5 separate regions of the Homo sapiens genome follow, and regions 1, 3, 4 and 5 are each linked to region 2. Evidence: fine-mapped expression QTL. A gene starts in region 2. Each other region holds a variant in brackets. All regions are shown on one strand. Distances are between the middles of the regions.

Evidence for each region. PIP is the estimated chance that this variant, and not a neighbour inherited with it, causes the effect.
Region 1: its variant is fine-mapped to the expression of TMEM216 in fibroblasts (GTEx, PIP 0.98). The same link has a PIP of 0.9 or more in hypothalamus, lung and skeletal muscle.
Region 3: its variant is fine-mapped to the expression of TMEM216 in testis (GTEx, PIP above 0.99).
Region 4: its variant is fine-mapped to the expression of TMEM216 in spinal cord (GTEx, PIP 0.96).
Region 5: its variant is fine-mapped to the expression of TMEM216 in subcutaneous fat (GTEx, PIP 0.91).

The regions. Positions count from the first base shown.
Region 1 is chr11:61,437,563-61,442,663 of GRCh38, forward strand. It overlaps SDHAF2 (succinate dehydrogenase complex assembly factor 2), which reads left to right. Exons shown (of 4, transcript NM_017841.4): 2 at 63-286; 3 at 442-551. Among named protein-coding and RNA genes, the nearest start is that of SDHAF2, 10 kb to the left of the region's middle. The variant T/G (reference allele first, on the strand shown) is at 2,276.
Region 2 is chr11:61,390,166-61,395,266 of GRCh38, forward strand. It overlaps TMEM216 (transmembrane protein 216), which reads left to right and starts at 2,422. Exons shown (of 5, transcript NM_001173990.3): 1 at 2,422-2,500; 2 at 3,066-3,167; 3 at 3,719-3,811. The coding sequence starts at 2,467. RefSeq lists an enhancer at 2,187-3,148.
Region 3 is chr11:61,472,430-61,477,530 of GRCh38, forward strand. No RefSeq gene overlaps it. Among named protein-coding and RNA genes, the nearest start is that of SAXO4, 6.1 kb to the right of the region's middle. The variant T/C (reference allele first, on the strand shown) is at 2,322.
Region 4 is chr11:61,060,152-61,065,252 of GRCh38, forward strand. LINC02954 (long intergenic non-protein coding RNA 2954) reads left to right here. Exons shown (of 4, transcript NR_186234.1): 3 at 1,560-1,724. All of the region lies in intron 1 of LOC105369325 (a long non-coding RNA gene), which reads right to left. Among named protein-coding and RNA genes, the nearest start is that of LINC02954, 7.3 kb to the left of the region's middle. RefSeq lists enhancers at 765-1,964, 1,030-1,269, 1,620-1,859. The variant G/T (reference allele first, on the strand shown) is at 2,011.
Region 5 is chr11:61,481,612-61,486,712 of GRCh38, forward strand. SAXO4 (stabilizer of axonemal microtubules 4) reads left to right here. Exons shown (of 14, transcript NM_145017.3): 2 at 171-307; 3 at 700-817; 4 at 1,044-1,197; 5 at 3,077-3,205; 6 at 3,727-3,790; 7 at 4,188-4,300; 8 at 4,733-4,792; 9 at 4,913-4,999. The coding sequence starts at 199. Among named protein-coding and RNA genes, the nearest start is that of SAXO4, 3.0 kb to the left of the region's middle. RefSeq lists enhancers at 946-1,240, 4,492-5,101. The variant A/G (reference allele first, on the strand shown) is at 3,220.

The DNA.
Region 1 (5,101 bases), 47 kb after region 2:
AGTAAATGATAGCGATGATAGTCGTCATTATTGTAAAGATGTTTGTGGTTTGTTCATTTCAGATGCTTGCTCTGTCAAGGCACAGCCTATTGTCTCCTTTGCTCAGTGTGACATCATTCAGACGCTTCTACAGAGGTGACAGCCCAACAGATTCCCAAAAGGACATGATTGAAATCCCTTTGCCTCCATGGCAGGAGAGAACTGATGAATCCATAGAAACCAAAAGAGCCCGCCTGCTCTATGAGAGCAGAAAGAGGGGAATGTTGGAAAACTGCATTCTTCTTAGGTATGGGACTAGGAGTCTTTTTTTTTAAATCGGGCAGCTTCCTGAGCCAGAGTAGGTTCAGAGAGACTCCCAGGAGTAGGAGTCTTGGTGTCACTTCTCTTTTATTAGACACAGCCTTCTCAACCTCTTTTTCTTTTTTTCTTTCTTGTTTTTAGTCTTTTTGCTAAAGAACATCTGCAGCACATGACAGAAAAGCAGCTGAACCTCTATGACCGCCTGATTAACGAGCCTAGTAATGACTGGGATATTTACTACTGGGCCACAGGTACTGGGTATGATAAGCAGCATAATGTGAAAATAGGACAGTTTAGGCTGATTTGAGTCTAGAATTGTATCCTAGATAATTTTTTTCTTTCTTTTTTTTTTTTGAGACTGAGTTTCACTCTCGTTGCCCAGGCTGGAGTGCAATGGCATGATCTCGGCTCACTGCAACCTCTACCTTCCAGGTTCAAGCGATTCTCCAGCCTCAGCCTCCTGAGTACCTGGGATTACAGGCATGTGTCACCACACCCGGGTAATTTTATATTTTTAATAGAGACAGGGTTTCTCTGTGTTGGTCAGGCTAGTCTCGAACTCCTGACCTCAGGTGATCCGCCCGCCTCGGCCTCCCAAAATCCTGGGATTACAGGCATGAGCCACTGTGCCTGGCTTATAATTTTTTTCTTTTATTCATGAAGTAGACACTCAACCCAAACACTGTTCAAATTTTTGTTAAGTGTACAAAATTTATCAGTTAAAGTTCTTTATTTGCGAGACAGAGTGGAAACTTGTTTGTCTCACTTAAGCAAAAAGGAATTTAGTGGAAGGGTATATGAAGCTCACAGTATCAAAGGTTGAAGAAGAACCACTCTGGGAATGGAGTGGAATCAGACAACTAAGTCTGCATAGCCAAAGCTCCTCAATAGTTTCATTCTGGCCGGCCGCAGTGGCTCATGCCTCTAATCTGAGCACTTTGGGAGGCTGAGGCGGATGGATCGCTTGAGGTTAGGAGCTTGAGAGCAGCCTGGCCAACACAGCGAAACCTCATCTCTCCAAAAATTCAAAAATTAGCCGAACATGGTGGCGGACAACTGCAGTCTCAGCTACTTGGGAGGCTGAGGCAAGAGAATCGCTTGAGCCTGGGAGACAGAGATTGCAGTGAGCTGAGATTGCACCACTGCACTCCATCCTGGGCAAAAGAGTGAGACTATGTCTCAAAAAAAAAAAAGTTTCATTCAGGCACTACCTTTATGAGGAATGAATTCTAACTGTGTATAGTTAGGATTAACTTTGGCTATGAGTAAAAAAACATCCAAAACAGTAATGGCTTAAACAAGGTAGAACTGTCTTTCTCATGACAGAAGTCCAGAGGAAGGCACACTCCAGAGCTCATAGAGGGGCTTCAAAAAGTCATGGGTCCAGGTCCCCCCTACTTGCTGCTCTTTCATCCTAGCATGTGTTTTCTACTTCTTGATCCAGGACAGCCATATTTCAGCCCGGAAAAAGTGTGTGGAAGTGCATACCCCTCCTTTGTAGATCCCGCTCAGGAAATTATCCAGCATACTTCCACTTATTTGCCATTGGCCACAGCTTAGTTACTTGGCTACGTCTAACCATAAGGAAAAATAATATAGTCTATTCCATCTGCCCAGCTGTGTTGGAGATTCTGTTATCGATGAAAACTGGATATTAGGGGACGTGTCATTCATTCTGCCACACTCCGGGACTGCTGTTTTTGTGTCTCCACTCAATATTTGTATCAGAAAGTAGCAGCCATTGTCTATGGGTTCCAGGTATGAAGAGTGATAAGACAGAGTCTGGAGCCTTATACAATCACTGGAAAGCCAACAAAGTCCAAATATTTACTCTCCAACCCTTTACAGAACAAGTTTGCCCTGACTTAGCATAATGCATTTGAGATGCGTATCCTTGTTGTTACTTGTATCAATAGTTCATTCTTTTGTGTTGAGTAATATTCCATTGTGTGGATGTACCATGGTCTGTTCATCT[T/G]TTGACCAGCTGAGGGACATTAGGATTATTTCCAGCTTTAGGTGATTATAAATGAAGCCACTGTAAACATTTGCATACAGATTTTGTGAACATAGGTTTTAGTTTTTCTTGAGTGAATACTCAGGAGAAGGATTTGCTGGGTCATGTGGTAAGTGTATATGTTTAACTTTATAATAGGGCCAGGTGTGGTAGCTCATGCCTGTAATTTCAGCATGAGATCACATGCTCCTCCTCTGGGAAGCCGAGGCAGGTGGATCACTTGAGGCCAGGAGTTCGAGACCAGCCTGGCCAGCATGACAATACCCCGTCTCTACTAAAAATGCAAAAGTTAGCCGCGTGTGGTGGTGCGCCCAGCTACTCTGGAGGCTGAGGCAAGAGAATCTCTTGAATCCGGGAGGCAGAGGTTGCAGTGAGCCAAGATCACGCCACTGTGCTCCAACCTGGGCGACAGAGTGAGACTCTTTCAAAAAAATAAATAGGGCTGGGCGCGGTGAGTCAACACCTGTAATCCCAGCACTTTGGGAGGTCGAGGCGGGTGGATCACCTGAGGCCAGGAGATCGAGACCTTCCTGGCTAACACGGTGAAACCCCGTTTCTACTAAAACGACAAAAAATTAGCTGGGTGTGGTGGCGGGTTCCTGTAGTCCCAGCTACTCGGGAGGCTGAGTCAGGAGAATCGCTTAAACCTGGGAGGTGGAGGTTGCAGTGAGCCAAGATTGGGCCACTGCACTCCAGCCTGGGTGACAGAATGAGACTCTGTCTCAAAAATAAATAAATAAAACTTTTAGTACATTTTTTCTGTAATAGGTAAATATAGATAGTAAGCTTTTTCTATAATAGGTAAATATAGATAGTAAATACAGATAATGAATATTTTAGGCTTTGCAGGCCATACAGCCTCTCATAACTACTCACCTCGACCTTTGTAGCATGAAAGCAGCCACAGATAGCAGGTAAACGAATATGATTGTGTTTCAATAAAACCTTATTTGTGGACACTGAAAATAGAATTTCATACTGTTTTCACCAGTTATGAAATATACATTTGATTTTTTTTCCCCAACCATTAAAAAATCATTCTTGGCTGGATGCAGTGGCTCACACCTATAATTCCAGCGCTTTGGAAGGCTGAGGCAAAGGATCTCTTGAGGCCAGGAGTTTGGGACCAGCCTGGGCAACATAGACCCCCTATCTCCAAAAATAAAAATAAGTTAGCTGGGCTTGGTGGTGCACACTGTATTCCCAGCTACTTGGGAGGATCACTTGAGCCCAGGAGTTCAGAGACTGCAATGACCTATGATCACGCCACTGCATTTCAGCCTGGGCAAGAGTGAGACCCAATCTCTAAAAATCATTCTTAGCTCACAGGGCATAGTTTGCCAGCTTCTGTGCTAAGCAAAAGAGGTCAAACTCAACCAGACGCGGTGGCTCACGCCTGTAATCCCAGCACTTTGGTAGGCTGAGGTGGGCGGATCACGAGGTCAGGAGATTGAGACCATCTTGGCCAACATGGTGAAACCCCGTCTCTACTAAAAATACTGGGCGTGGTGGTGGGCGCCTGTAATCTCAGCTACTTGGGAGGCTGGGGCAGGAGAATCTCTTAAACCAGGGAGTCGGAGGTTGCAGTAAGCCGAGATCATGCCACTATACTCCAGCCTGGGTGACAGAGCGAGGCTCCATCTCAAAAAAAAAAAAAAAAAGATCAGACTCAACAAGTACATACTCAGTACATAATTGGACTCCAAGAATGTGATTCTGTTTACATGATAATCTGAAAAAGGCAAAACTTACAGGGACAAATCAGTGATTGCCAGGGTGTTGGATGTGAAGGGAGGGGTTGGTGTTCCACATCTTTACCCACACTTTGTATTATCAGGGTTTTGTTTTTGTTTTTAGCCATTCCAAGAAGTATATATTGGTACATCACTATAGTTTTAATTGGCATGTCCCTAATGACTAATAATATTGAGGATCTTTTCAAGGGCTTATCAGCCCTTTATGTATATTTGGTGACATGTCTCTTCAAATTCCGCCCCCCACCACTCCTCCCTTTTTTTTTTTTTTGAGACAGGATCTCACTCTGTCACCCAGGCTGGAGTGCAGTGGTGCAGTCATGGCTCAGTGCAGGCTCCACCTCCTGGGCTCAAGCGATCCTCCCACCTCAGCCTCCAGAATAGCTGGGACTACAGGCCGGCAGCACCATGCCCAGCTAATTTTTGTTGTTGTTGTATTTTTTGTGGAGATGAGGTTTTGCCATGTTGCCCAGACTGGTCTCAAACTCCTGAGCTCAAGCAATCCACCTGCCTCGGCCTCCCAAAGTGCTGGGATTACAGGTGTGAGCCACCATGCCTGGCCAGATTTTCCATTTTGGAAGATACTTTCACTGGATATAGAATTCGAGGGTCACAATGTTTTTTCTTCTGTTAAATAGAAACACTTCTACCGCCAGCTCTTAGTGTACAAGATCGGGTAGTCAGGAGTTCCGCTGGGTTTGGACTTTGGTTTTGCTCTGGTTACCTTCAGTGCATCACCAGCTTCATATTCCCTCCGGTGTTACCATGTGCTGTTTTCTCATTTCCATAGTTTGTGACGAGGTCTGCTGTATCTTTGTTCCTTTTTATGTGTCTTCTCTTTCTGAATCTTTTCAATATTTTGTCTTTGGTTTCTAGCCGTTTCAATATTATATACATAGGTATTTATTTGATATTTATATATGTAGGCATTTGATATTTATCGTGCTTTTGGGTTCTCTGGGCATCTTGGATCTGTGTTTTCATATCTTTTATTATTGTTGAAAAATTCTCAGCTGTTACCCCTTCAGCTATT
Region 2 (5,101 bases):
GTCACTCATAGGACTTGGGAGCAGGGGGCCCCCAGGTTGCCATGCTGATGTTCCTGCTGTTTGCCATAAGTAATTTGGCCTCACTGTCAGCTTTTGGCATCTATGAAGTTGTGGCATACTCTGACATAGATTAGCCAACTTTTTCTTAAAGGGTCAGATGGTATTTAAGGCTGTGGGCCATGTGGTCTCTGTTGCAACTACTTAACATTGCCATAATAGCATGAAAGCTGCAATATATAATAACATGTAAGTAAGTGACCATGATGACGTTCTCCAAAGAACTTTTATTTACAAAAACAAGCAGCTGGCCCACTTTCTTTGTTTTTCTTTTGAGACATAGTTTCACTCTTGTTGCCCAGGCTGGAGTGCAATGGCTTGGTCTCAGCTCACTGCAACCTCCGCCTCCCAGGTTCAAGCGATTCTTATGCCTCAGCCCCCCAAGTAGCTGGGATTAGAGGCATGTGCCATCATGCCCGGCTAATTTTGTATTTTTAGTAGAGATGGGGTTTCACCATGTTGGTCAGGCTGGTCTTGAATTCCTGACCTCAAGTGATCCACCCGCCTCAGCCTCCCAAAGTGCTGGGATTACAGGTGTGAGCCACCGCGCCAGGTGCAGCTGGCCCACTTTCTTTCCATATCAGGCTCAGAGCAGGAACTTTTCTAATGTCTCTTGTCTTGCAGGCAGCGAAGATGGGGAAGCAGGATCTGGATTCCTTTCCACCTTAACCTCTGTGCTCTGCGCTTTCCTACTTACCCTAAAGGGCTTCCTTGCCCTCCAGCTTGCAGTTAAGTTGTGTCAGCGGGAGACATAAGCAGAGATCAGAGATGGGAGAAGGGAAATGGAGGTCCCTGCTATATTTATCCACTAGCCTCCTAGAGTGTGAGGGTTCCTAGTGGGAGGCCTTCTATGCACATATTACTCTCCAGCTTCAGGGAATTGTTTCAGGCCCTTCCCTTTTAAGCCTAGAAGTAACAATTACCGCCCCACCACATCCCAATTAGCCAGGGGTACAGCACTTTGCTTAAAGCTTAGTCACTCTTGGCCGGGGGCATTAATCACACCTGTAATCCCAGCACTTTGGGAGGCGGGGGGGGGGGGGGGGGGGGGGGGGGGGGGCGGGTCACCTGAGGTCAGGAGTTCCAGACCAGCCTGGCCAACATGGTGAAACCCCGTCTCTACTAAAAATGCAAAAATATTTAGCCGGGTGTGGTGGGGGGCACCTGTAATCCCCGCTACTTGGGAGGCTGAGACTGGAGAATCGCTTGAACCCAGGAGGCGGAGGTTGCAGTGACCAGAGATAGCGCCATTGCACTCCAGCCTGGGTTACAAGAGCAAAACTCCGTCTCAAAAATAAAATGAAATAAATAAAATAAAGCTTAGTCACCTTCCTCAGGCTACCTGGTTGGAGCGTGCCATCTGTTTCCTGCTTTACCCTGATTGACAACGGGCTAACAGCCAAGTCAAGTCAACCTGAGTCCTCTCAAAACCCTTCTTTTTGCACTCCCCTGCCTGCAGCAACACAGTTTTCTGTTTTTTTTTTTTTTTGAGACAGAGTCTCACTGTCGCCCAGGCTGGAGTGCGGTGGCGCGATCTCAGCTCACTGCAACCTCCGCCTCCCGGGTTCGAGCGATTCTCCTACCTCAGCCTCCCAAGTAGCTGTAACTACTGGCGCGCGCCAGTACGCCCGGCTAATTTTTGTATTTTTAGTAGAGACGGGGTTTCGCCATGTTGGCCAGGCTGATTTCGAACTCCTGACCTCAGGTGATCCATCACCTCGGCCTCCCAAAGTGCTGGGATTACAGGCGTGAGCCACTAAGCCCGGCCAGCAACACGCTTTTACCGCTGCAAATCCGGATCAGGCAGGCTTTGAAGCCCAGCTCACAGGCCGTCTCTTGGAAACTAACTTAGATTTCCACCTGGGAGCACTTTGTCCTCTCAGCTCCCACTGCACCACTTTATGGATCGCGTGGTGACTCGTTTCATTTTATTTATGTGTGTTCCTGGAAAGGACGCTCTATTTCCTTCGTGTCTCTACCTGGTAGGTAAATCGGCCGCAGAAAAGACCAATGCTAACTCCACCCTGCATTTGCAGAGATCCGTCGCTCACACCTTTTCTTGTCTTCCGTTGAAAAAAGAGAATCGTGGGAGTAGGACCTATTTGCCAATCTCCTGGTAACACTATCACAACTGGCCACTTCCGCCCAACGCCCGGTAGTCTGAGAGCCTCCAAGGTCCTCCCCCGCACCCCTGAGGTCCTGCAGACGACGGCGTCGTGGGTGGTCACCGTTATCCCTTAGGTCTGGAGAGGGGACATCCGAGCGAGGGCCACTTGCGGCCAGGCCCGAGCTCGTCCAGCTCCGGGTGACCACAGAGTGCCGCGGGCGGGCAGAGGGGCCGGAAACCCAGGCCGCTTCGTCCCTGTTTCCGGCAGCGCCGCGCTGCTCCGGGAGCCGCTGTGGCAGCGTATGCTGCCACGGGGACTGAAGATGGCGCCGCGAGGTGAGATTCCGGAGGTGTGTGAGTCGCTGGTCCCTTTCCCTTCGGTCGCTCCCTCCCACCTCTGTCCCAGAGCTTGACCTAAACCCTCCATTCTCTAGCGTTAGGGACGTCGCGCCTCCCTGGTCCAAAGCCGGCTTCCGCGGTCCCGCCCACCCTGGGTGCCTGAAGGTCTCAAGGTGCACAGCTCAAATAAACGCAGATCCTTGGCTGGGCCACTTCTAGGCTGGCTCAGGTGCGAATCTGTTGGTCTCTGCGCCCCAACTTCCCCTCCCAAATAGTGACAGAGTGAGATCTTTGAGATGTCTGTCAGCTGCGAGTTACCTCTTGACTTTTATTCCTGAAGCCGAAGAGTCGAGTTTCACGGTGATTCCTAGGAAAGGAGGGAAGCCCCCTCCACTCCCACCCCCGTACCCTCGCCCCCTCATTATCAGCAACCAGAAGTGCCCCTGAGTGGCCGGTCCCATTAGTTGCAGCGTCTAGTTTCCCCAAAGTTAGACACCAACCCATACGAGCAGAGAGGGAGCTGCCTTCCGGCCCATCCCACTTCTCTGTGCTCCTTTTTCAGGTAAACGGTTGTCCTCCACCCCGCTGGAAATCCTGTTCTTTCTGAACGGGTGGTATAATGCTACCTATTTCCTGCTGGAACTTTTCATATTTCTGTATAAAGGTAAGGAAGGCTTGGGGCTTGACGACAGCATCCCTTCCCCACTTCAGCTCAGAGCCAATTCCTACCAAGAACCTTCTTATTTTCCGTTCTTTTCTGCCCCCTGCAGTTCTTTGTCGCTGCAAGGCAGGCCTCCTCATCAGATGGCTTCTTTGAGTATGATTCCATAGGCAGCCCCTCAGCAAGAATTTCTTGAGTTTGAGAAATGTGGGCTTCTCCATTCTGACTCTGCCCACATCACTGCTCTTTGCTGAGCTCCACTGTAAGCCCACTGGTGACCCTTAGAAACTATTCAGTGGCCTGTGTACCCATGTACATCCAATCATTTTGGAGAGTGGAGTCCCCAGAGACTTTTGGAGTTAGGAGTAAAACACCATAATAATGAGCCTGAGTCGCATTGTGAGTTTATGTATCCTGCTGCTGTAATAATGCCCACATCTCACTAACTAGTTCATGGAAAGCTGAGACTGATGTCCTCTTTTTTCCCAAGTGTGTGGCAGTTCTTGTGGGTGCTGTTATATGCTGTTTGCAAACTCTGGCTTTTGTATTGGCAGGTGTCCTGCTACCATATCCAACAGCTAACCTAGTACTGGATGTGGTGATGCTCCTCCTTTATCTTGGAATTGAAGTAATTCGCCTGTTTTTTGGTAAGTGTTGTCCAGAGAATATTTCCACTCCTTATGAGACAAGCTGGTATCTGTAACTTGATTAACAAGAAAAGTACATAACCTAGGTTGACTATCATAGACTGGATCTGTATATCCTATTACTCCGTCTCTGAAGTTTCAAGTTGCTGCTTCATACATTGGGTCAAGATTTACCTGTTTGTTGCTCTGTAAGGCTAGAGATGGGCAATAGAATGGGATATTAGATGATTCCTTCCCAGCTGCCTAACTGCAAGAAGAGTGCTTGGTTCTTCTCACTAGTATTCTTAGGGGAATAGGTTCAGTTGTAACTCCACGTCAGGGCAGGCAGTGTATCCTGTACAGATCAGTACTAAGATCCCTAACAATTCTCTGAATAAGGATCTCTGTAGGAGTTTTTTGTTTTTTTTTTTTGAGATGGAGTCTCACTCTGTCCCCAGGCTGGAGTGCAATGGCACGATCTCGGATCACTGCAATCTCTGCCTCCCGGGATCAAGCGATTCTCCTGCCTCAGCCTCCTGAGTAGCTGGGATTACAGGCGTGCACCACTGCTCCCAGCTAATTTTTGTATTTTTAATAGAGACGGGGTTTCACCATGTTGGCCAGGATGGTCTCGATCTCTTGACCTTGTGATCTGCCTGTGTCGGCCTCCCAAGGTGGTGGGATTACAAATGTGGGCCACTGCACCTGGTTGGATTTTTTTTTTTTTTTGAGATGGAGTCTCACTCTGTCACCTGGGCTGGAGTGCAGTGGCACCATCTCGGCTCACTGCAGCCTCCGCCTCCCGGGTTCAAGCAATTCTCCTGCCTCAGCCTCCTGAGTAGCTGGGACTGCAGGCGCCTGCCACCATGCCCGGCAAGTTTTTATATTTTTAGTAGAGATAGAGTTTCACCATGTTGGCTAGGATGGTCTCGATCTCCTGACCTCATGATCCACCCGCCTTGGCCTCCCAAAGTGCTGGGATTATAGGTGTGAGCCATCACACCTGGCCAGATTTTGTTTTTTAAACATTTATTTATTTGAGACAGGGTCTCATTCTGTCACCTAGGCTGTAGTACAGTGGTACGATCATAGCTCACAGCAGCCTTGAAGCCCTGGGCTCAAGCAGTCCTCCAACTTCAGCCTCCTGAGTAGCTGGGACCACAGGTGTGCGACATCATACCTGGCTAATTTTGTGTTTTTTGTAGAGACAGTGTCTTGCCTTGTTGCCCAGGCTGGTCTGAAGCTCCTGGCCTCAAGCAATCTTCCTGCCTTGGCCTCCCCAAGGTGCTGGGATTACAGGCGTGAGCCAAC
Region 3 (5,101 bases), 82 kb after region 2:
ACCAGGCCCATGGCCAGGGGCGGTGGCTCATGCCTGTAGTTCCAGCGACTTGAGGCTGAGGCGGGAGAATCTCTTGAGTCCAGGAGGTTGAGGTCACAGTGAGCTATGATTGCGCCACTGCACTCCAGCCTGGGTGACAGAGCAAGACCCTTTCTCTAAAAAAAAAAAAAAAAAAACAAAAACCAAACAAAAAAAGCCCCATTTTTTTTGGGCATTACTGTTTTCTCAAAATTTCAGTAGGCCTCTCATCTGTCTGCTTCCAGTGAGTTTCATATGCCTGAATGTGACAGTTAATTTGTGTCTCAATTTGTCTAGGTGACTGGGTACCTGGATATGTGATCGAGTATTCTTCTGGGTGTTTCTATGAGGATGTTTTTGGATGAAATTGGCATTTAAATTGGTAAACTGAGTAAAGCAGTCTGTCCCCCTAACCGGGGTGGGCTTCATGTAATCAGCTCAAGGTTTGAATACAACAAAAAGACTTACACTCTCGCAAGTGAAAGGCAATTCTTTCTGCCTGGTAGCCTTCAAACTGAGACACAGGCTTTTATCCTGCCTTCAGATTCGCCTGGGAACACTGGCTCTTCCTGAGTCTCAAGCCTGCTGGCCTTGAGACAAGAACTACATCAGCTCTCTCAGTTCTCAAGCCTTTGGACTTACTCTGGAACTAAGCCATCAGCTCTCTTGGGTCGTCAGCTTGCCAACCAACTCATCCTGAAGATCTTGGGACTTGCCAGCCTTCATAGTCACGTGGGCCAATTCCTTTTTTTTTTTTTTTTTTTGAGATGGGGTCTTACTCTGTTGCCCAGGCTGGACTGCAATGGCACGATTATGGCTCACTGCAGCCTCAACCTCCAGGGCTTGAGTGATCCTCCCACCTCAGCCTCCCAAGTAGCTGGGACTACAGGCACATGCTACCATGCCCAGCTAATTAAAAAAAATTTTTTTTTTGTAGAGACGGAGTTTCACTGTGTTGCTCAGGCTGGTCTTGAACTCCTGAGCTCAAGCAACCCTCCACTTCAGCTTCCCAAAGTGCTGGGATTACAGGCATCACTGGCCCAGGCAGAGCCAATTCTGTATAATAAATCTGTCTCTCTCTGTCTCTCGTGTATGTGTGTGTGTGCACATTCTGTTTTGCTAGAGAATGCTGACTAATACAGAATCACATCCTAATTTATTTCCTAAGAAGTTCTCAAATCTTCATTTCTTTGCTTATGCCGCAGTAACAAACAAAACCCCAAACCTTAGAGGCTTAAAGCAGCAAGGTTTATCTCTCTATCACATCCCAGTGTGCTGCAGGAAAAGCAGCTCCAGGGCAGCTGACTCCATGCAGTGACTCAGAGATCCAGCCTGCTTCCATCTTTTGGTTCTTCCATCCCAAGTGTGATTTCTACCCACAGAGAATGGAAAACTCACACCCACCTCTAACTACTCAGACTGGGAGTGGCACTGCTCAATTCCACCCACAGAACCAGCCATGTGGCCCTTATCTAACTGCAAGGAAGGCAGGAAAATGCAATGATAATCATAAACATTTCTTGAGTGCTTTCTCTATGCCAGGCTGTGTGCTAAGCATGTAAATATTGTCTTTTCTGTATTCCAAGCCTAAGTCTCTTAAAGTTCTACTGTGACCTCATCATACAGCCAAGGAAACAGGCTCGGAGAAGTTAAGGAAGTTGTCCAAGGGCACATACCTCATAAAGGCAGGGCTGCAGAATTGAACCCAGATCTCTGTGCATTGGAAACCCACCCCCTTGACCCCTGTCCTGGTTCCTTGCTCATCTCTGCCAAGAATATCTTCATTCCATCTGAGGATTGGGAATGGCTTCTTATTTTCTGCCTCATCTCATTTCATCTTCCCCGCGAGTCATGAATTTTTAAACCTTGTGTGAGATCAACAAGTTCACCCAGAGGAGACAGTAAAAGAACAGAACAGGCAGGAACAGAACAGCCATCAGATACACAGGATAGAGTCTTCCAGGAAATGCCCACTGAGGGGAGAAATGAACCACAAGTGAGGCCAGGATTGTGGGAGGCTGTGAGGGAAAGCAATCCGGTCATCAGGGGAATCATTTCCTTTTACGAAAGAGAGAGAGATGGGACTTAGCCATTAGACTTGGGCTATTTCAGTTCCTGGTAATGACACAGCTCAGTGAATAGAACCCCCAAAGCACTTTCGGAAGGGGGGCCCCAGTCCTGGGCAGCTCTCCTGCCTTAATCACTGCAAGTCACAGAGCAGAGAAACTGGAAATGGGCAAAATCGATGACAGGCCTGCCTGCAGACCACGCCCTGGACCCAACCTGCGCCCCCACGGTCATTA[T/C]GTCACCCATCACTCCTTGGTGCTCACACAGCTGAGCCCATGAAGCAGGGCAGCCCCCACTCCCAGGACTAGACAGAAAGGTGGTTGCACGAATCCAGGGCTCCATGCTCTTCCCCATCGCAGGGAAGACAGGGCCTCACAGACTTGATGTCCTCCCAGTCAGCTCTTCTCTGCCATGATCCCCTTTATGCTGCGTCCCAGCTTCAAACTGCTCCCCTGAAAGGGTCAGTTGGAGCAGCTGAGCTTGGGGCATCTCACCTGGGTGAGCTTTGTTGGTGGGCTCAGAAGAATCTGGGTTGGGAAACAGTACTCTGGGGGCAGAATGAGGGGTTCAGTGAGCCCTTGTGTCCTTTGTGGGCACCTTGGAGTCTGGCTTGGGAGAAACTCCCTGTGCAGGTCCAGCAGGCCTAGAGGCCAGGCTGAGTGTGGGTTGGCATGAGGCCGACTCCCCTCCATGCCCCGCTGTAATAAGGCAGAGGGGAAGGACCTTGGAAGGGGGTAGGCTGGGGTCCTGCTATGTCACAGATGGCAGGTGAGGGGCCCAGGGGGAGGGGACGTGGAACCAGCCATCACTTCAGTATATGAAGACAGAGCTCCAAGTTCTCCAGGCCAAACAACACATCTCAAACTAAAGCAAGCCAAACCTCCTATCCTGGCTCAACCCCCTCTTCACAGGCAACAGGATCAGAGGGAGGCAGTTAATTAAGAAGGGTCACATAGCACTATTTGTGCCAGAGCCAGACCTCAAACTCAAGCCTAGAAAAGGCTCAGAAAGGGGCAGGCATGTAACCTCAGATCACCTGAAGCCAAGAAACATTACTCTAGGCTTGTCCCAGCCTCCAGCATGGGAATTTCAAAAGTAGGAGTATAATTACCCTCTCCCTGCCACCCCCAGCCTCCTGGGCTGGGAGGGCTCAGTGCCTTTAGCTGCATCCCAGGGATCTGTTTCCCATTTCTCAATCATCTTAGCTGATTCGAACAATTTCAGACCTTTCTTCTGTGAATTTTTCACCCAGCAGTGCCCAGCACAAACTGAGGACCATGAGAGGGGTGAACTCTTTAAAAGGATTTTTAGGCCTAGCATGGTGGTTCACACCTGTATTCCCAGCACTTTGGGAGGCCGAGGCAGGAGGATCCCTTGAAGCCAGGAGTTTGAGACCAGCCTGGGCAACAAAGCAAGATCCTGTCTCTATAAACATTTTCTTAAAATCTTTTTATTTTTTTTTCTCTATAGAGGTAATCAGGTTTAAAAAGAGATTTAAAAAGTCATAGGAGGTCAGATTTTGAAAATAGATCTGAGAACCTCTAGCTCAACCTTTGAGGCAATATCAAAGTGGTCACCAGCATGACCTTTGAAGTCAGGATGTCTGGGTTCAAATAATGGCTTTTCCCCTTAGTAGCTGTGTGACCTGTGACAAGTTACGCAGCCTCTCTGTGTCTGAGTTTCTTCATCTATAAAATGGAGGAGCTGATACCACCCACCAGGTAGGAATGCGGTGAAGTTTAATTGTGCTAATCATGGGAAGTGCTTAGAAACAGTCCCTGATACCTAACGAACCAGTGAAAGTTTGCTCTTATTGTCATCCTGTCAAGCTGTTGCATGCCTCCTGGGATGGGGAACTCACTCCCCCCAGGGCAGCCTGTTCCCCTATTGGATTATTTTGTGTGTTAGGAGGCTTTTCTATCCATTAAGCTGAAGTATGCCAACCTGTCTCTTCCCTACAAGAGCCCTGGCTTCCCTCTGAGGGCGGCTATAAAGACCCACATCAACCAAAGCAAAATGACACACACTTGGTGGTGTGTGGCTCATTCACTTCAGTTAATCCTCTTTTAGGGAACTGCAGCCCACATGGCCCAGCACAGAGCGCAGATGTCTGTCTCTGCTCAGGACTCAGCACTCAGTGGTGGTGTGCTCTGGCCTCGGGAGCCTGTTAGGGCCTACCCCACTGATCCCAGCCAAGGAACTCTATGGGCTGAGACCCAGCATGTCCTCTCACTGGGTCCTCTCTGCTAACCTAGTGTGTCTGTAGCCTCTGCCTTCGTATGGGAGGGAAACAGGGGAATCTTTTTTTTTTTTTTCTGAGATGGAGTCTTGCTCTGTCGCCCAGGCTGGAGTGCAGTGGTGTAATCTCGGCTCACTGCAACCTCTTACTCCTGCATTCAAGGAGTTCTCCCTGCCTCAGCCTCCCGAGTAGCTGGGATTACAGGCGCCCACCACCATGCCTTGCTAATTTTTGTATTTTTAGTAGAGACGGGGTTTTGCCATGTTGGCCAGGCTGATCTCGAACTCCTGACTTCAGGTGATCTGCCTGCTTTGGCCTCCCAAAGTGCTGGGATTACAGGCATGAGCCACTGTGCCCGGCTGGAAACGGGAATCTTACTGCCCAGGACTGGGCAGAGCTAGAAAGTAGGAGGCAGTTGCCCATCTGGCCAGGGCAGCCCATCCCTTTGGAAAATCATCCCTTTGGAAAAGCCCAGTGCTAAGGTCCCGGCGCTTTCTGGAGAATTTGCTGGTGTGTTCCAGAGGGCGGGGCATAGATTCCAGGGTCAAAGCTGAGTTTGGATCCCAGCTCCACTCCTCCCTGTCTGCGAGGCCTCAGGCAGTTTCCTCACATGTAACATGGGCAGGATTATAGTAGTTCCCACGTAGAGCCGGGAGTGAAAAGCGATGATGAGGTGATTCGTAGCTCAGCTCTGGCACAATAAAGTGCTGAATAAATGGGGACAGATATGGGAAGGGAGTGGGATGAGGTGGGCCTAGATTTTCCAGTATGGAAGGA
Region 4 (5,101 bases), 330 kb before region 2:
TCTTCATTATTCAAGATACAAGATCAAGGCTGGGTCCAGGTTCTGTTGAGCCTGAAGCCTATACAATTTGGGGGTCCCTCTTTAAAAAATATGATAATACACAAATAAAATTAGATAAAGGGTGCCTGTAATCCCAGCACTTTGGGAGGCCAAGGCGGGTGAATCACTTGAGGTCAGGAGTTTTAGACCAGCCTGGCCAACATGGTGAAACCCTGTCTCTACTAAAAATACAAAAATAAGCCAGACATGGTGGTAGACGCCTATAATTCCAGCTATTCAGGAGGCTGAGGCACAAGAATCTCTTGAACCCGGGAGGCGGAGGTTGCAATGAGCCAAGACCATACCACTGCACTCCAGCCTGGGCGACAGAGCTAGACTCCATCTCAAAAAAAAAAAAAAAAAAAAGATAAATGGCCTTGGGAGGGTCCTAAGACTGACCTTCTCCAGCCTTGTGGTCAGTCTGTCTGGACCTGTCTGCACATCATCCCTTTAATTATTTCCCAAAAGCTCTACATCACAAACGCATTATTGAAGATGAAGAAACGGGGCTCAGAGAGGTAGAGGAATTTGTCCAACCCAGTTGTCCAGGAAAGACCAGGCACAGTGGACTCCAAATCCCATATTCTTCCAGCCACAACATGCATTTCTTGAATAAATGCTAAAAGATGTGGTGGGTAATTGGTATTGATGAATGGAACACAAATTTGGGGCAAGTTTCAGGTTCACCCTATCCACACCCTACCCGACTCCCACCAGAACTCCTGAATATCACAAACATCCTTCCAGGACCCCACACACAAAAAGTCCCAGGTTATAACCATATTAGAGTAATGGAAAATGAGAAAATGGAAAAAACCTCCATCATTCCCAGCAAAGACTCAACAGGGCCCTCATGAAGCTCCACCTTGTTCCCACTGAGGCAGCTTCCGGCAAGTGCCTGTTTGTACAACCAGCGAGAAACACAGCTCTTGCTGATCTTAATTCTTACCCCCACTCGTTCAGTTCTCTTATGATGACAGGCACCTCAATTCAGTTTCGCAGCATCCCAAAACGTGCCGGAGTAGGCTGGGTGAGACTCTCGGGGCTCAAAGTCTATCATTACATCTTGGTTGCGACCACAGAGGGTTTTTTTTTTTCTTTTAAACACCAGCTCAAGGGCAGAAGAATTAGTCAGGGCACAGATCTTCCGGATCGCTACTGTATGGGGACCATAACATCACTGTAAGGCCCCTGTGCTGAGCCACAAACCCCACTTGGAACAAAGAAAACTCCCAGGTACTTTACCAGACACCAATTGCGCCATCCTGTTTGGGACACAGTCATTTGGCACTCCAGGTTCTCAACCCATAGTAATAACGCCTCATGCTTTTGAAACTGAAAAATGCATCCAAAAAAATCTCAGTGACACATCATGACTCATGTCCCATCCCCACCCCCACTCCCACCTCCCTCCCGCCCCACCCTAGGGAGGGGGGCTCGTCCTTTTCATTCACCCCTGATGTGAAACCAGGTTGGTCAGTGCCTGTCAATTTCACTTCCTGTTTCCTTGCTTCCATCAGAGAGCAGAGCTGTGAGGAGGGATAGATATTATGCTGTGGTGCAGCCAGACAAGCCCCACCTTGTTGTGCCTCCAGAAGAAGCACATTCTTGGCCTGGGTGGTAACAATAACATCTGGATGGAAATATCAAGTGGTATCAGGCTTCCAGACCACCATTCATGAAAGGTGCATCCACTTAGTAAGCCTCTATGGAGGCCTCTTCTGGGCCAAGTGTTTGTTCGAAGTTGTGTATGGACAGAAAGATATTCCTCCTCTCAAGGTGCCCACAGTCCAGGGCGTACTGAGAAGCCAACAGATAATGCAGTGAGATGGCTGTGGGGATTGGGGTGTTACAGAATTGGGGTGGGGTGGGGACAGCCTGCTTTCAAGGAGTCTAGGCAGGCATCTCAGAGGTGACAGCCAAGACTAGATGGAGGACAATAATAAGGATGATGACGATGATGACACTGAT[G/T]AACAATATGTGCAGCGTTTTCTAACACTTTGCATTTGTTAACTCACGTATTCTTCCCAGTCACCCTTATTCCCACTTCATAGAGGAGGGAACTGAGGCATCAGGATGGTGAGTAACTGGCCCAAAGTCACATAGCTGTTACAAGCACTATATGAGGACAAGCTGACCTGCCAAAGACAGCGTAGGGATCAGGACGGAGAAAGTCACAGAGAGGAAAGGGCATGGCATTTATGGAGAGCTGCCAACATCTTGGGGCCACACAGCAAAGGGCAAAAGTGGTCCCAACATGTGGGTGTGTGGCCCACAGACACGCTTTGTTGATGGCCCATATAGTGTTTTAAGATATATATATAAACCAACGCTTGAAAATTAGGCTATTTCATATAAAAACTCAGATTCCCAAAATTATGTTGAACAATCAGGATCTGGAAACATGGAGGCCATATTCTTCCATGGCAATAATCAGAGTTGGGTTGGTTCTCTTTAGATGGGGTGTAGCCTTCACCCTGTTTCCGTACAGCCACTTCCACTGCCTGATGTCCCCTTCATCCAGTCCCATTAATCCACCAACGTGACCTGCCTGGTGTGTGTGAGACAGGGCAGAGTCAGGGCACAGAGCTACAGAACTTGGACTGAAGCGTTTCCAGTAAGAGGAGGGCAGTGGTGATGCAGCCAGACTCCTACTGCGTGGAGATGAGTCCAGCAGCTCCCTGGAAGAGGGACTGCATGGAGCATAAGACTGCAGCAGGGAAGAGGAGGAGAGGATAAAGTACTGTTCATGCAGGATCAGAACCGGGGCAAGTGTGAAGAGGTCCCTCTACTGAACTTCTACGGAGGTTGATTTTACCGGAAATCTTTTCTCTATTTTCTCCCTGGGGCTCAGGATATAAGCTATACTTAGCAAGCAGTACTTTTTCATATGGAAGACTAAGATTCGCAGAGACCCTGCCAAGGCAACTTACATAGAGCCAAAGGAGAAAAATTAGGCAGATGCTCTCGGGGGAGTTAATTTTAAGGCATTACAGCATTTAATACACAGATTCCACTTCAGTGTTAAACCAAACCAGTCGCAGAGGCTTAAAAAACAGTGGCCAGGTCAACCACTTCACTTTACTCCCAGCCCCCAAAACCTCTCCTGCCCACCATGTTTTCAACTTGAAGCCACACTGAACCATGGAGCACTGTTAGGAAGGCTGGAGGTGGGCAGAGGGGACAGCCCGAGATCATGGTGCCACGAGAAGCTTCCCTCCAGTTGGGGAGATGGGGCCAAGCCCCATGGACCACGAGTGAGAAAGACACATCATGTTTCTATTTCACGTGTGCCATTCACGTGCTTAGTTCTGGGACGCTGCAGAGAAGCAGCAGTTACAGACCTGCTGATGGTGTGGTCAGGAAAGAAGCAGGAAAAGGGTGGGGCACGGTGGTGGCTCACGCCTGTAATCCCAGCACTTTGGGAGGCCGAGGCAGGCGGGTCACCTGAGGTCAGGAGTTCAAGACCACCTGGCCAACATGGTGAAACCCTGTCTCTACAAAAATAAAAAATTAGCTAGGCATGATGGCGGGCGCCTGTAGTCCCAGCTACTCGGGAGGCTGAGTCAAGAGAATTGCTTGAATCCGGGAGGCGAAGGTTGCAGTGAGCCGAGATCACGCCACTGCACTCTAGCCTGGGCAACTGATCGAGACTCTGTCTCAAAAAAAAAAAAAAAAAAGCAGGAAAGTAATTTGACAACTAGGAGATCTATGACAACACTTCACTCAGCTGTGGAAAGGTCTTGGGTGTTAGGGTCACATTTGACAATTCTGCCTGTTTGCTGTGTGGCACTGATGCCTGGCTGAGCTTCTCTGTGTCTGTCTCCTCATCTTTTAAATGAGAGCGCTTTGTACACTGGGAAGTGACCTGTGGATGTGAGAGGCCCTGTTGCTATGTGTCCTCTTCATCATTGCTTGCCTATTTTACTATATTTTTTTTTTTGAGACGGAGTCTCGTTCTATTGCCCAAGCTAGAGTACAGTGGCGTGATCTCTGCTCACTGCAACATTCGCCTCCCAGGTTCAAGTGATTCTCCAGCCTCAGCCTCCTGAGTAGCTGGGACTATAGGCACGTGCCACCACATCCAGCCAATTTTTGTAGTTTTAGTAGAGACAGGGTTTTACCATGTTGGCTAGGCTGGCCTCAAACTCCTGACTTCAGGTGATCTGCCTGCCTCGGCCTCCCAAAGTGCTGGGATTACAGGTGTGAGCCACCGCGCCTGGCCACTTGCCTGTTTTTCAATCCAGGGCTGGTCCCCCGGCTGGAAGTCTGCAGAGAGGGTCGAGCCCTCCATCTTTCCTTCTCTCCCTTCCCAAAGTTTCCCAGCTCTGCTGCTATCCCAGGACCCTTTCTTAGGCTATAAAATCCACACGAAGGTGCTATTCAAAAAGATTCCCGCATTTCCTACTTTGAAAGGGCACCCTAAGGAGTGACTAACAGTGATATTTCAGGAGGCACTGGGTGGTCGTGTCTTGAGCGCTCAGATTCTACCCCATGAGCATCTACATTCAATCAAGCCAGAGACCAAGATAAAAGCTAAAAAACCCAACCAAGTTTCCAGGTTTTCATAGTGGTTGGCTCCATGTAGACTGGAATTAGCAAACAGGTTTCAATCCATGTACCAGATCTGATGGTATGAAACACTGATTATGGCCGGACACTGTGGCTCATACCTGTAATCCCAGTACTTTGGGAGGCCAAGGCAGGAGAACTGCTTGAGCCGAGGAGTTTGAGACCAACCTGGGCAACATAGCGAGACCCCGTCTCTACAAAAAAAAATAATAATAATAATAATTAGCTGGACATGGTGGTGTGTGCCTGGGGTGCCAACTACTCGGGAGGATGAGGTGGGAAGATCACTTGAGCCTGGAAGGTTCAGACTGCAGTGAGCTATTATTGTGCCACTGCACTCCAGCCAGAGCAACAGAGTGAGACCTTGTCTCGAAAAAAAAAAAAAAAAAAAGAAAGCAAGAAAGAAAAGAAAAAGAAACACCGATTATGCAGAGAATCAGTCTGAGCCGCGTCTGAACTCAGCAGACACGCATACTATGATGGAGTAGAG
Region 5 (5,101 bases), 91 kb after region 2:
GTGGATGATCGGTTTCGTCCTTAGTTTAGGGACTTGGGAGCTGGGGCAGAGAGACAGAGGCCTGGGAGAAGGGGCCAGCTGCGTTGTGGGTGGTGGGGGGCAGATCTTCGCCCCTGTGGGCTTCCGAGCCAGGCTTGGGACCCATGAGGCTCCCCGTGCTTCCTTTCTAGGCCCCCTGGGGCCCTGCCCCACAGCATCATGATGGGGAAACTCCCCCTGGGGGTCGTCTCCCCTTATGTGAAGATGAGTTCGGGGGGCTACACGGACCCCCTGAAATTCTACGCCACCAGCTACTGCACCGCCTACGGTGAGGGTGCCTTTGCGCAGGAGCCTCTGCTAGGACATGGGCAGGAAGGGAGGGGCTCTCTCTGAGGGAGGAGCAGACCCTCTGGCTGTCACACTGCAGAGCAACTGCTGAATCCGTTTGTCCCCTGGGCCCTGCCCGGCTGCTCCCTTCTCTGGTTCTGTCCCTGCAATTCTGTCACTGTGATTCTGCCACACTGACCTTGTCCCCAGCCCACCCACTCCATTTCCTGCCATCACAGTCCTGAAAGGGCAGGCTTGCAAAGCTCCTGCCCGTGGCTCTGAGCCCTCCCCTGTCACTGTGACCCCTGTGCCCCTCGGAGGACGCTGGCCCTGCCTGGGAAGCCCTGCCTGTTTTTGACCTTGGGGTCTGTCTCCCCGTTACCCCTCTGGCAGGTCGGGAGGATTTCAAGCCCCGTGTGGGCAGTCACGTAGGCACCGGCTACAAATCAAATTTCCAGCCCGTGGTCTCATGCCAAGCCAGTCTGGAGGCCTTAGACAACCCGGCCAGGGGGTACGGTCTGTATGGCCCCTTCCCAGCCCCTGCCCTGCTCATCAGACCAACTCCAGGTTCCTTGGATGGGGACCCTGAGCTTTGCCTGCCCTAGGCTGGGGGTCCTGGGTGACTCAGGGCACAGCGGACCTCTGAGCCATCTGTGGGAGGGTGCAGGGAGGAGGGAAGCTCCTTAGCAGAGGACAGAGGCAGGCGGCCTGGGGTTCTAGCTCCTCCTCACCCTCAGGGAACAAGCCCAGGACCATTTCCAGTCTGTGGCCAGCCAGAGCTACCGCCCCCTGGAGGTGCCTGACGGCAAGCATCCCCTGCCCTGGAGCATGCGCCAGACCAGCTCAGGCTATGGGCGGGAGAAGCCCAGTGCGGGTCCCCCCACCAAGGAGGTCAGTGCTGGGCCAGGGCCAGGAGAGGGAAGCCTCAGGGTGGGGTGGGGCTAGGGCTGCACTGCCAACAGTTGGTCAAGGTGGAGGTGACAGGGCATGGAGCAGCCACCTTGTAGGGATGGGGTCCACTCATCTTTCTCCCCTTTGTCCTCATCCTTGTCCCCACCATCCCCACCACCTCTATTCCCTGCCCCAGCCCCACCATTACCTCCACCTCCATTTCCATCCCCATCCCTGTCCCCATTCCCATGAGCCTCACACTCCCGTCCACACCTGCAAGCCCCATCACTGTCCCTACTACCACCACTGTCCCCCCACCATGGACATCCTCACCCCATCTTTTTCATTTCTTTTTCTTTTTTTTTTTTTTTTTTTTGAGATGGAGTCTCACTCTGTTGCCCAGGCTGGAGTGCAGTGGCACGATCTCGGCTCACTGCAACCTCCACCTCCTGGGTTCAAGCGATTCTCCTGCCTCAGCCTCCCCAGTAGCTGGGATTACAGGCATGTGCCACCACACCCGGCTAATATTTTGTATTTTTAGTACAGACAGGGTTTCACCGTGTTAGCCAGGATAGTCTCAATCTCCTGACCTCGTGATCTGCCCGCCTCAGCCTCCCAAAGTGCTGGGATTACAGGCGTGAGCCACTGCGCCCAGCCCCATCTTTTTCATTTCTATCCTCATTATTACCACCCTTCTTATCATCAGCACCACCACCAAAATGGACACTCATTCATTCATCCAGCGAGAATGTTCTGAATATCTCCTTCATATTTGAAGATGATAAGAGCGGGTGGAGTGCGGGGTGGGGCGGGGGTTAGGAAATACAACAGGGAGAAGCAGGGAGGAAGAGAAGTGAAGGAGTTGGAGGCCAGGTGCGATGGCTCACACCTGTAATCCCAGCACTTTGGGAAGCTGAAGCAGGCAGATCACTTGAGGTCAGGAGTTTGAGACCAGTCTGGCCAACATGGTGAAACTCCATCTCTACTAAAAATACAAAAACTAGCTGGGCATGGTGGCACGCACCTATAATCCCAGCTACTCAGAAGGCTGAGGCAGGAGAATTGCTTGAACTCGGGAGGCGGAGGTTGCAGTGAGGCTGAGATTGCCTGGGCAATAGAATGAGACTTGGACTAAAAAAAAATAAAGCCAGGCGTGGTGGCTCACACCTGTAATCCCAGCACTTTGGGAGGCTGAGTCAGGTGGATCACTTGAGGCCAACTGCTGTTGGGTCAGCCTGGCCATCATGGTGAAACCCCATCTCTACCAAAAAAATACAAAAAAAAAATAGCCAGGTGTGGTGGCTTGCATCTGTAGTCCCAGCTACTTGGGAGGCTGAGGCACAAGAATTGATTGAACTCAGGAGGTGGAGTTTGCAGGAAGCTGAGATCATGCCACTGCACTCCAGCCTGGGCAACAGAGCGAGACTCTGTCTCAAAAAATGTAAGTAATAAATAAATTAGAAGCGAAGGAGTTGCAACTGCAAATCGGGAGGGTCGGGAAAGAGCTTGCTATGGAGACACTGGACAAAAACTTGAGGGAGGCCAGCTCCTCCAGTTGCAGCTGTCTGAGGGAGGAGTGGTCCAGGCAGTGCCAACAGCAAGTGCAAAGGCCTCAAGGTGGGAACAGAAAGGAGACAAGCAGCTAGAGCAGGGTGAGGCACTCAGGTCCTTGCAGGCCACCAGGAGGACGTGGAATTCCCTGCGAGTGTGATGGGAAGGCTGCAGGGCTCTAAGCAGAGAGGGGACATGCAGGTTTCATTGTAAAAGGACCCCCTCTGGCTGCTCTGCAGATACTGCGCTCTGTAAAGGTCAAGGGCAGAAGCAGAGTCAGGGAGTGACTGCCGCCCCCTCACTTGTAATTGGCCCTTCTTCCTCCCAGGTCCGGAAGGTCCATTTCGACACCCAGGAGCACGGGCCTCAGGCCATCACGGGGCTGGAGCCCAGGGAAGTGCCTCTGCTCCACCAGCAGCAGGGCCAGGACCCGCTGGAGCGGGAGAACTTCCGACATGTGAGTGGCAGCCC[A/G]GCTAAGGGCTTCGGGGTGGGGCAGAGGGGCCACACCCGCCTCTTCCTCCCACCTCAAGACAAGTATTGCACTGACTCACCCAAGAAGCCAGCTCAGGGTGGGCTCAGGGCGCCAAGAAAGATGGGAGAGCAAAGGATTTGATATTGGCTATTTCCAAAATAGCCTCAATGTGGCTTCTCGCGATTTAACGCTACTCCTCTTCCCCCAGCCTTCCTCCTCCTGCTCACGGCCCCTCCTGGTCTCGGTCCCTCTGGGCCCCCCACTCATTACCAGGAGTCTGGTGTGGGGTGTGACGTGGTATTCATAGTCACAGGGGAACTGTGCTTTGTGCTGAAATTCCTGGCCCTGCGATGTCCCACCCCACAGAGACTTGTGTCCAGGGTGCTGTACTGGCCCACACAGGCTTCCTCAGAGCACAGAGAACCGAGGCGCCACTCCACCGCCGCCACACGCCTTCGGGGCCCTGGTGGGTCAGTGCCCCCACTCCTCCAACCTCTCTGTTCCAGGGCCCACGCTTCATGACGTCGGAGTACAATTCCAAGTATCTCAGGGACCCTCTAGACCAGCCAGGTAGGCCCTGTCTGAACTCACAGCTCCCTTCCCATCTTCCAATCCACCTCCCTACTTGCTACCCCAGGGGCCCTGGAGCTGGCCTAGGACTGAGAAGGCACCAGTGGAAGAAAGAAGGATGCACAGGTGGCTGGAGGGAAGCGCCTCTCCCGGGCTGACCTCAGTACCTTGGGCCTCTCAGGAGGGTGGCTTGGCCGGTGCATGCCCTTCCTGCTGCTCCCTCTCCTGTCCTCCGGCCTGGACTCTGGAATCCTCACCCTGCCACCCACGATCCTCATGGCGCAGGTCTCCAGGATCTTGGGATCCACTCCCTCTGCACCTGCTGGGACACTGAGCCTCTGGAGGACACATGGGTGGGCCAGGTGGCCTGGCAGCACACAGGGCATTTCTTTTGCAGATTTCTTGCAGAAGAAATCGATCGGCGCAAAGGAGGGGAGTGGCTTCACCAAACAGTCCCACCAGAGCCCCATTGTCTTCCAACCGCCCTCACAGGCCCTCCCTGGGGACCCTGTAAGTCGGCTGGGCTCCTGCTAGAACTTTAGGGGGCTTGAAGCCCTCCAGTCTCAGGGTTTCTAGCTTTCCTAAAGAATGTGAGCTGCAGAGCCCTTTGTTCAAACACAAGACGAAAGAGCTTAGGTGAAAACCACTGCTTTGGTCCAAGTCCCCCATTTATAGATGAGAAGACTGAGGTCCAAAGAGATGAAGGAGGTGTAGCCAATGTCATTCAGAGTTCAGACAAGAGCCCTGGCCTGCTGGTCCCATTCAGAGTCATGCCTTCCCCTGTCTTCTCCCCAAACACTTCCCTTTTCTCAGTGATGCCCATTTGAGCTGAGTCCTCCTCTGTGCTCAGCACAGCAGTGGCCTGGAGGCAGAGTGGGTGGGAGCCACCAGGGGCCCAGGCTGCCTCTGCGGGGCTGACATCCTCTGTGGGCCTATTTCCAGGCCCTCCTCCCAGGCCAGAGTGTCACCAAGTCAGACTTCCTCCCCAAGACTCACCTACATGTAAGCTGAGCTAGGGGGAGGCTGGGGACCGCCTGGCGGGGAGCAGTTAGAACATGGCTCTGGAAGGTGGTGGGGGAGGCAGCCACATCCTGGTGCCAGTGGCTGCTTTGCTCCCTCCAGGGAGATGAGTTCCTACCTGTGTTGGCCAGAGGCTCCAAGCGGGAAACAGCCTTCAGCCGAGGGAATGAAAGGATTCTGAACCCCAGAGTGAGTGGCCTTGGCGTCTTGCTCAGAGAAGGGAGAAGACAGGGAGGTTTCTGGGAAGAGGTGGCATTTGGGTCAGGCATTGAAGAATGAGAAGAATTAGGA